Regions from separate parts of the Homo sapiens genome. Here region 1 is linked to region 2. The links come from fine-mapping of genetic effects on gene expression. A gene starts in region 2. The other region holds a variant in brackets. All regions are shown on one strand. Distances are between the middles of the regions.

Region 1 (4,387 bases), 28 kb before region 2:
TTTCTTATCCCAATTGCCAACCTAATCCTAATCTTCTATCATCTCCTAAGTGTCCCTCATGAGTGATCACTTCTGAGTCCTCCCGCATGGAGAGCTCACCCACTGGGGGCATATTTTTCCCATTGGAAAAGTGTGGTTATTGGAAGTTTCCTCTTTTTTAAAAGAACAGGATTGGAGGTGCTCTCTGGGGTGTCCTCCTACCAAGCAGCCTGTTGAAAGTCTCGTGGTGCTCAGGGAGCACGGGTGACACTCGCCATTGCTTCAGCTTCATCTTGAGCCCACACAGCGTCTCCGCCACCCAGGTCTCCTCAGGCTCAGGGGCGAGCTCCTTCTCTGGCTCCTCCTCCGATGACTCCTCAGATTCGTCCGACCACTCCCTCTTCCTTTTCCAGCAAAGGGACCCACACAGGGGGCTGGGATCTACCCCAGGGGCTGAGTAAAGAAACCAGGCCACTGTATAATGCTTCTGCAATTGAACTCCTTAGAGCCAGACCCAAAACGCCAAACCACTCTCCATCCTCCCCAGCCTCGCAGACTGCTGGCTTCTCCAAGCCATCTTTCCGTCTTTCTCCTTTGCTGAACCCCATGAGCCGCTCCTTCCCCTCCCCATTCTTCCATCTCTCTGTCCTCAGAACACTTCCTCATTTCCTTCCCTCATCCCTAGTTCTCTGAGTCTCTCCTTTTTTTTTTTTTTTTTTTTTGACACAGAGTCTTGCTTTGTCGCCCAGGCTGGAGTGTAGTAGTGCAATCTCGGCTCACTGCAATCTCCGTCTCCCAGGTTCCAGTGATTCTCCTGCCTCAGCCTCCCAAGTAGCTGGGATTACAGGTGCCCGTAATAACGCCCAGCTCATTTTTGTTCTTTTAGTAGGGATGGGGTTTCACCATGTTGGCCAGGCTGGTCTCAAACTCCTGGCCTCAAGTGATCCGCCTGCCTTGGCCTCCCGAAGTGCTGGGATTACAGGTGTGAGCCACTGCACCCTGCCTCAGTCCCTCCATTCTTCCCACACACCTCCTCAGGTGCTCCTTCCTGACTTCTGGGCCCGTCCTTGTTTTTTTTTTTTTGTTTTTTTTGTTTTTTTTGCCACAGGGTCTCAGTCTCTCAGACTGGAGTGCAGTGGTGCTATCTCGGCTCAAAGCAACCTCTGCCTCCCGGGTTCTAGAGATTCTCCTGTCTCAGCCTCCCAAGTAGCTGGGAATACAGGCGTGCGCCACCACACCCGGCTAAGTTTTGTATTTTTAGTATTGACTAGGTTTCACTATATTGGTCAGGCTGGTCTCGAACAACTGACCTCAGGTGATCCACCCGCCTCAGCCTCCCAAAGTGCTGGGATTACAGACATGAGCTACTGCGCCCGGCCTTTGGTTTTCTTTTGAAACAGGGTTTTGTTCTGTCATGCAGGCTGGAGTGCAGTCGTGCAGTCATAGCTCACTGCAGCCTCAAAGTCCTGAGTTCAAGCAATTCTCTTGCCTCAGCCTCCCAGTGTGCTGGGATCTCAGGCATCAGCCACAGCACCTGTCCCGAAACCAAACTTTCTTTTTTTGTTGTTTTTTTGTTTTTTTGAGACAGAGTCTCTCTCTGTCACCCAGGCTGGAGTGTAGTGGCGCGATCTCAGCTCACTGCAAGCAACACCTCCGGGGTTCACGCCATTCTGCTGCCTCAGCCTCCCAAGTAGCTAGGACTACAGGCGCCCACCACCACGCCCAGCTAATTTTTTATATTTTTAGAAAGACTGTGTTTCACCATGTTAGCCAGGATGGTCTCGATCTCCTGACCTCGTAATCCGCCCGCCTCGGCCTCCGAAAGTGCTGGGATTACAGACGTGAGCCACAGCGCCCAGCCCAAAACCAAGCTTTCTTATCCCGAGAGCCAAACTTTATCAACTCCAGCCTAATCCTCTATCATCTCCTAAGCGTCCCTCATGAGTGATCACTTCTGAGTCCTCCCGCATGGAGAGCTCACCCACTGGGGGCATATTTTTCCCATTGGAAAAGTGTGGTTATTGAAAGTTTTCCTCGTTTTTAAAAGAACAGGATTGGAGGTGCTCTCTGGGGTGTCCTCCTACCAAGCAGCCTGTTGAAGTCCTCATGGTGCTCAGGGAGCACGAATGACACTAGCCGTTGCTTCAGCTTCAGCTTCATTTTGAGCCCACACAGCATCTCCGCCACCCAGGTCTCCTCAGGCTCAGGGGCGAGCTCCTTCTCTGGCGCCTCCTCCGATGACTCCTCAGATTGGTCCGACCACTCCCTCTTCCTTTTCCAGCAAAGGGACCTACATGGGAGGCTGGGATCTACCCCAGGGGCTGAGTAAAGAAACCAGGCCACCATGTAATGCTTCTGCAACTGATCACCTTAGACCCCGACCCCGACCCCAACCCCAAACCACTCTCCATCCTCCCCAGCCTTGCAGACTGTTGGCTTCTCCAAGCCATCTTTCTGGCTTTCTCCTCTGCTCAACCCCATGAGCCGCTCCTTCCCCTCCCCATTCTTCCGTATCTCTGTCCTCAGAACACTTCTTCATGTCCTTCCCTGGTCCCTGGCTCTCTGAGTCCCTCCTTTTTTGCTTGTTTTTTTGTTATTG[GT/G]TTTTTTTTTTTTTGTTTCGAGACAGAATCTTGCTTTGTCGCCCGGGCTGGAGTGTAGTGGTGCAATCTCAGTTCACTGCAACATCTGTCTCCCGGATTCCAGTTATTCTCATGCCTCAGCCTCTCAGGTAGCTGGGATTACAGGTATCTGCCATAATGCCCAGCTCAATTTTGTACTTTTAGTAGAGATGGGGTTTCACCATGTTGACCAGGCTGGTCTCAAACTCCTGGCCTCAAGTGATCTGCCCGCCTTGGCCTCCCAAAGTGCTGGGATTACAGGTGTGAGCCACTGCACCTGGCCTGAATTTCTCCATTCTTCCCATACACCCTCCTCAGGTTCTCCTTCCTGACCTCTGACCCTTCTTTTTTTTTTTTTTTTTTTTGAGACAGTGTCTCACTCTCTCACCCAGACTGGAGTGCGGTAGCACAATCTTGGCTCACTGCAACCTCTTCCTCCCAGGCTCAAGTGATTCTCCTGTCTCAGCCTCCCAAATAGCTGGGATTACAGGCGCGCACCACTACCACCTGGCTAATTTTTGTACTTTTAGTAGAGATGGGGTTTCACCATGTTGGCCAGGCTCGTCTTGAACTCCTGACCTCAGGTGATCCATCCGCCTCGGCCTCCCAAAGTGTTAGGGTTACAGGTGTGAGCCACTGCACCTGGCCCCCTTCCTTCACCTTAGTCAATCCTATCCCACCTCTTCTTCCTCCAGTCCCCTCACCTGATGGTCCCGACACTTCATCATCCACCACCTCCTGGAGGGGGTACCCTGAGGTGCTCAGCTGGGGGCTCTGCTCCTCATCCTGGGGGTGCGGTTGATGGCTGGTCATGATCTTTCCCAAAATCTATCCCAACCCACGGAACCTAGTCTCTGTTCTATCCAAGGCCTTCTTCTGGACTCTGCTAGGACCCAGAAGGTGTGTTATCAATTCTCGAGGCTGAGAGAAGTCAGGAGTGGAGAACAGCTCTGAGAAGATGCAGTTGTCCACTTGAGCTCCCAGATGCCCATGGAGTCCAGTCCTTCCAATCAGGAAGGTTGGAATCTCTGATGTCATTGGTCATTCCAACCTGGCAACCAGTTTGAAGAAAAACACATGTAACTGCCAGGCTGGTCTCTTGTCCTGGAGATCCTGGGTGAATGGTATCTCCTGCCACTGTCCCAACCTCAGACCACCATCCAAAAGCATCTTCAGGGTCTCCGCATCCATCTGTTCCCTGTCCCAGCAGAGGCTGTGTCTTCTCCACTCAAAGCCTGAAGCATTTTGGGGTCTCCTCTTCTCTGTACATGCCCATTTCAGAGTCCAGTCTGGTGGGAGAGGGAGGGTGGGAAAGAAAACTAGGGTAAGCAGAAACTATGAAACCTTACAAGTGTGAGATTATCATATACAAGAGATCCCAGGAACATTGACTTGATGAAAAAGTCACATCAGAGCACTCAATTTGGCAGAGCTTTTCTGCCGAATGTTTACTGACATTCACTGTCCGAGATTCTATACTGGGGGTACACGTGTCCTCTGCCGTAAGGCATCTTTGAGTCCAAGAGACATTTTGAGGCCTGAAAATCATAGGAAACTGCCCATGAGCTCACTCATATTTCCAATGGTGTCCCCAGTTTCAGGGAGTCCATGGATTACCTAAGGCCAGCCCCTCCAGTTCGGCTAAGAAACTCTAGTCTATATATTAAGTTTTGTATCATATGTATTGCTCTGAACTCAGAAATTTCCCTACCATTTATGGATTCTATGAATAAAATATCGCATGTACAAAAAGACTAAGTCGAAAAATCTCAGCTGTGCACAGTGGCTCA
Region 2 (4,377 bases):
GACCATCCTGGCTAACACGGTGAAACCTGGTCTCTACTAAAAATACAAAAAATTAGCCGGGCGTGGTGGCAGGCGCCTGTAGTCCCAGCTACTTGGGAGGCTGAGGCAGGAGAATGGCATGAACCCGGGAGGCAGAGCTTGCAGGGAGCTGAGATCACGCCACTGCACTCCAGCCTGGGCAACAGAGTGAGACTCTGTCTCAAAAAAACAAAAAAGTATATAGTAAGTATAGAAAATATATGAATTAAAAAATCAATGCCGAGCGTGATGGCTCAAACCTATAATCCCAGCACTTTGGGAGGCCGGGGTGGGCAGATCACCTGGGGTTGGAAGTTCGAGACCAGCCTGGCTAACGTGGGGAAACCCCATCTCTACTAAAAATACAAGTTTAGGTGGGCGTGGTGGTACGTGCTTGTAATCCCAGCTACTTGGGAGGCTGAGGCAGAAGAATTGCTTGAGGAGACGGAGACAGGGAATAGGAGATGGAGGTTGCCGTGATCCCAGATAGCACCACTGCACTTCAGCCTGGGTGACAGAGTGAGACTCTGTCTCACAAAAAAAAAAAAAAAAAATTTTAGGCCGGAGGCGAGGTGTGGTGGCTGACACCTGTAATCCCAGCACTTTGGGAGGCCGAGGTGGGTGGATGATGTGAGGTCGGGAGTTCGAGACCAGCCTGGCCAACATGGTGAAACACCATCTCTACTAAAAATACAAAAATTAGCCGCCCATGGTGGTGCACCTGTAATCCCAGCTCCTTGGGAGGCTGAGGCAGTAGAATCACTTGAACCTGGGAGGTGGAGTTTGCAGTGAGCTTAGATTGCACCACTGTACTCCACTCTGGGCAACAGAGCAAGACTCTGTCTCAAAATATATATAATATATATTATTATGTATATATATAATATATATTATTATGTATATGTGTAATATATATTATTATGTATATATATAATATATATATTATATCATAATCCCTTCCCTCACTAAGTAATCACTGACCTACTTGGTACAATAAATATTTCCTTGCTTTTAGTAAGAACACACCCCTAAATGCAATGGTTTATTTTGCTTGCTTTTGAACTCTATAGAAATAAAATCAGGCCTGGCGCAGTGGCTCTCGCCTGTAATCCCACCACTTTGGGAGGCCGAGGCGGGCAGATCATGAGATCAGGAGATTGAGACTATCCTGGCCAACATGGTGAAATCCTGTCTCTATTAAAAATACAAAAGTTAGCTGGGTGTGGTCTCACGCACCTGTAATCCCAGCTACTTGGGAGGCTGAGGCAAGAGAATCACTTGCACCGGGGAGCCGGAGGTTGCAGTGAGTCGAGATCGCGCCACTGAACTCTAGCCTGGCCACAGAGCAAGACTGCATCTCCAAAAAAAAAAAAAAAAAAAAAAAAAAATAGAATTATAGGGTATATACACTTTTGTTTCTGATTTCTTTCAATCAACATTTATTTTAAAGATTCAGTCATGTTATTGTATAGTGCTATAGATAATTTTTTTAGATTCAAAGATTTTTATTTTTTACAAAACCCCAGAATAATAAACGTTATAATTATACATTTAAATCTGGTTGTAAGTTTTATCCTGGCAGCTATTTGTCAATATGCCTTCTAGTTAGAGAGGTTCTGCAAGTTATAATTTACATACAAAGATATTTCGCAATTTTTTTTTTTTTTGAGACGGAGTCTCACTCTGTCGCCCAGGCTGGAGTGCAGCGGGGTGATCTCGGCTCACTGCAACCTCCACCTCCTGGTTCGAGCAATTCTCCTGCCTCAGCCTCCTGAGCAGCTGGAACTACAGGTATGCGCCACCACGCCTAATTTTTGCTTTTTTTTTTTTTTTTTTTTTTTTTTTTAGACGGTTTTCGCTCTTGTTGCCCAGGCTGGAGTGCAATGGTGTGATCTCGGTTCACTGCAACTTCCGCCTCCCGGGTTCAAGCGATTGTCCTGCCTCAGCCTCCCGAGTAGCTGGGATTACAGGCGCCCGCCACCACGCCCGGCTAATTTTCGTATTTTTAGTAGAGATGGGGTTTCACCATGTTGGCCAGCCTGGTCTCGAACTCCTGACTTCAGGTGATCCGCCCGCCTTGGCCTCCCAAAGTGCTAGGATTACAGGCGTGAGCCACCGCAGTAGTCCCAGTTTTGTTTTGTTTTTTTGTTTTTTGTTTTTGATATCTCAATTCCTACAGTTGAGGAAACAAACTAGGAGAGGAGAAGAGGAGGCGGAACTCAAGTGACGGGAAAGCAGGAACTGAAGAAGCGGAGGAAGGATTTCAAAATTGGACGAAAGCCGGTCGGTTTTACTAACGGACCGGAAGGACTCTAGAGAACGCTCTGCACTATGGCTGGTCCCGTGAGCTTGCGAGACCTTCTAATGGGAGCATCAGCCTGGATGGGCTCTGAAAGTCCCGGAGGGTCCCCTACTGAGGGCGGAGGGAGCGCGGCTGGCGGACCGGAGCCTCCATGGCGGGAGGATGAGATCTGCGTTGTGGGAATCTTCGGCAAGACGGCTCTACGCCTGAATTCCGAGAAGTTCTCTCTTGTGAATACGGTGTGCGACCGACAGGTCTTTCCTCTCTTTCGCCACCAAGATCCTGGGGATCCAGGACCTGGAATCAGAACTGAGGCTGGCGCCGTGGGTGAGGCCGGTGGAGCCGAGGACCCTGGGGCTGCAGCCGGGGGTTCAGTTCGGGGAAGTGGAGCTGTCGCGGAAGGTAACCGAACTGAGGCAGGCTCCCAGGACTACAGCCTTCTGCAGGCCTACTACAGTCAGGAAAGCAAAGTTCTGTATCTTCTCCTCACCTCCATCTGTGACAATTCACAGCTTCTCCGGGCTTGTCGGGCTCTTCAGAGCGGGGAAGCTGGAGGTGGACTCTCTTTACCTCATGCAGAAGCACACGAGTTCTGGAAGCATCAAGAGAAGCTGCAGTGCCTCAGTCTCCTTTACCTATTCTCTGTCTGTCATATCTTGCTTCTGGTCCATCCCACTTGTTCCTTTGATATCACTTATGATCGAGTATTCAGAGCCCTGGATGGGCTGAGACAGAAGGTCCTGCCGCTCCTTAAAACAGCCATTAAGGATTGTCCAGTTGGCAAAGACTGGAAGCTAAACTGCCGACCTTGCCCACCTAGACTCCTTTTCCTCTTTCAACTCAATGGAGCCCTCAAGGTAGAACCTCCTCGGAACCAAGACCCAGCTCATCCAGACAAGCCCAAGAAACATTCTCCCAAAAGGAGGCTGCAGCATGCCCTGGAGGACCAGATCTATAGAATCTTCCGGAAGAGTCGTGTCTTGACTAATCAGAGCATCAACTGCCTCTTTACTGTGCCTGCCAACCAAGCTTTCGTGTACATAGTACCGGGAAGCCAGGAGGAGGACCCAGTAGGTATGTTGCTGGACCAACTTAGGAGTCATTGTACTGTGAAGGACCCGGAATCTTTGCTGGTGCCTGCACCCCTTTCTGGGCCTAGGCGATACCAGGTGATGAGGCAGCACAGCCGACAACAACTTTCCTTTCACATTGACAGCAGCAGTTCCAGTTCTTCAGGCCAGCTAGTGGATTTCACTCTTCGGGAATTCCTATGGCAGCATGTGGAGCTAGTTCTAAGCAAGAAAGGTTTCGATGACAGTGTGGGCAGGAACCCACAGCCTTCCCATTTTGAACTTCCTACTTATCAGAAGTGGATCTCAGCAGCTTCAAAACTGTATGAGGTGGCTATTGATGGGAAAGAAGAGGACTTGGGGTCACCCACTGGAGAGCTAACATCTAAGATTTTAAGCAGTATTAAAGTCTTGGAAGGATTTTTGGATATTGACACAAAATTCTCAGAAAACCGATGCCAAAAAGCTTTACCCATGGCCCACAGTGCCTACCAGTCAAATTTGCCTCATAATTACACAATGACTGTCCATAAGAATCAGCTTGCCCAGGCTCTTCGAGTGTACAGTCAACATGCTAGAGGTCCAGCATTTCACAAATACGCCATGCAGTTACATGAGGACTGCTACAAATTTTGGAGCAATGGCCATCAGCTCTGTGAGGAGAGGAGTTTAACTGATCAACACTGTGTGCACAAATTTCACTCATTACCTAAATCAGGTAGCTAAAATTTGTTCAGCATTTTGAAATAAAAACTTTGAGCTGTGTTTTCATTCTTGTTTTAAGATAGTCTGTTCACTATGTATTGATATTTTAGAAAGAGCCCTACAGAAATTTAGGTGCATCAGCTATACGTTTTCTCTCCTGCTGTAAAAGGAAAATATCAGCTATGACTACTTTCTTATTTTTTTTCATTTAAAGGATACGTCCTAGTGAATTGGTAAGTGAGAATTATTAAGTAGTATAAAATTTCAGACATCTCATATTAA

Direction of the effects. Alleles are on the strand shown, and positions count from the first base shown. SD is a standard deviation of normalised expression in the study named.
With allele GT in place of G in region 1, the expression in subcutaneous fat of the gene that starts at base 2,333 in region 2 is lower (small effect, 0.22 SD a copy in FUSION).

Evidence for each region. PIP is the estimated chance that this variant, and not a neighbour inherited with it, causes the effect.
Region 1: its variant is the best candidate, but not a certain one, in a credible set for the expression of SMG8 in subcutaneous fat (FUSION, PIP 0.65).

Annotation. Positions count from the first base shown.
Region 1 is chr17:59,179,448-59,183,834 of GRCh38, forward strand. All of the region lies in intron 2 of PRR11 (proline rich 11), which reads left to right. It also overlaps the pseudogene SPDYE22P. Among named protein-coding and RNA genes, the nearest start is that of PRR11, 26 kb to the left of the region's middle. RefSeq lists an enhancer at 2,931-3,432. The variant GT/G (reference allele first, on the strand shown) is at 2,579.
Region 2 is chr17:59,207,703-59,212,079 of GRCh38, forward strand. It overlaps SMG8 (SMG8 nonsense mediated mRNA decay factor), which reads left to right and starts at 2,333. Exons shown (of 4, transcript NM_018149.7): 1 at 2,333-4,108. The coding sequence starts at 2,350. RefSeq lists an enhancer at 2,142-2,211.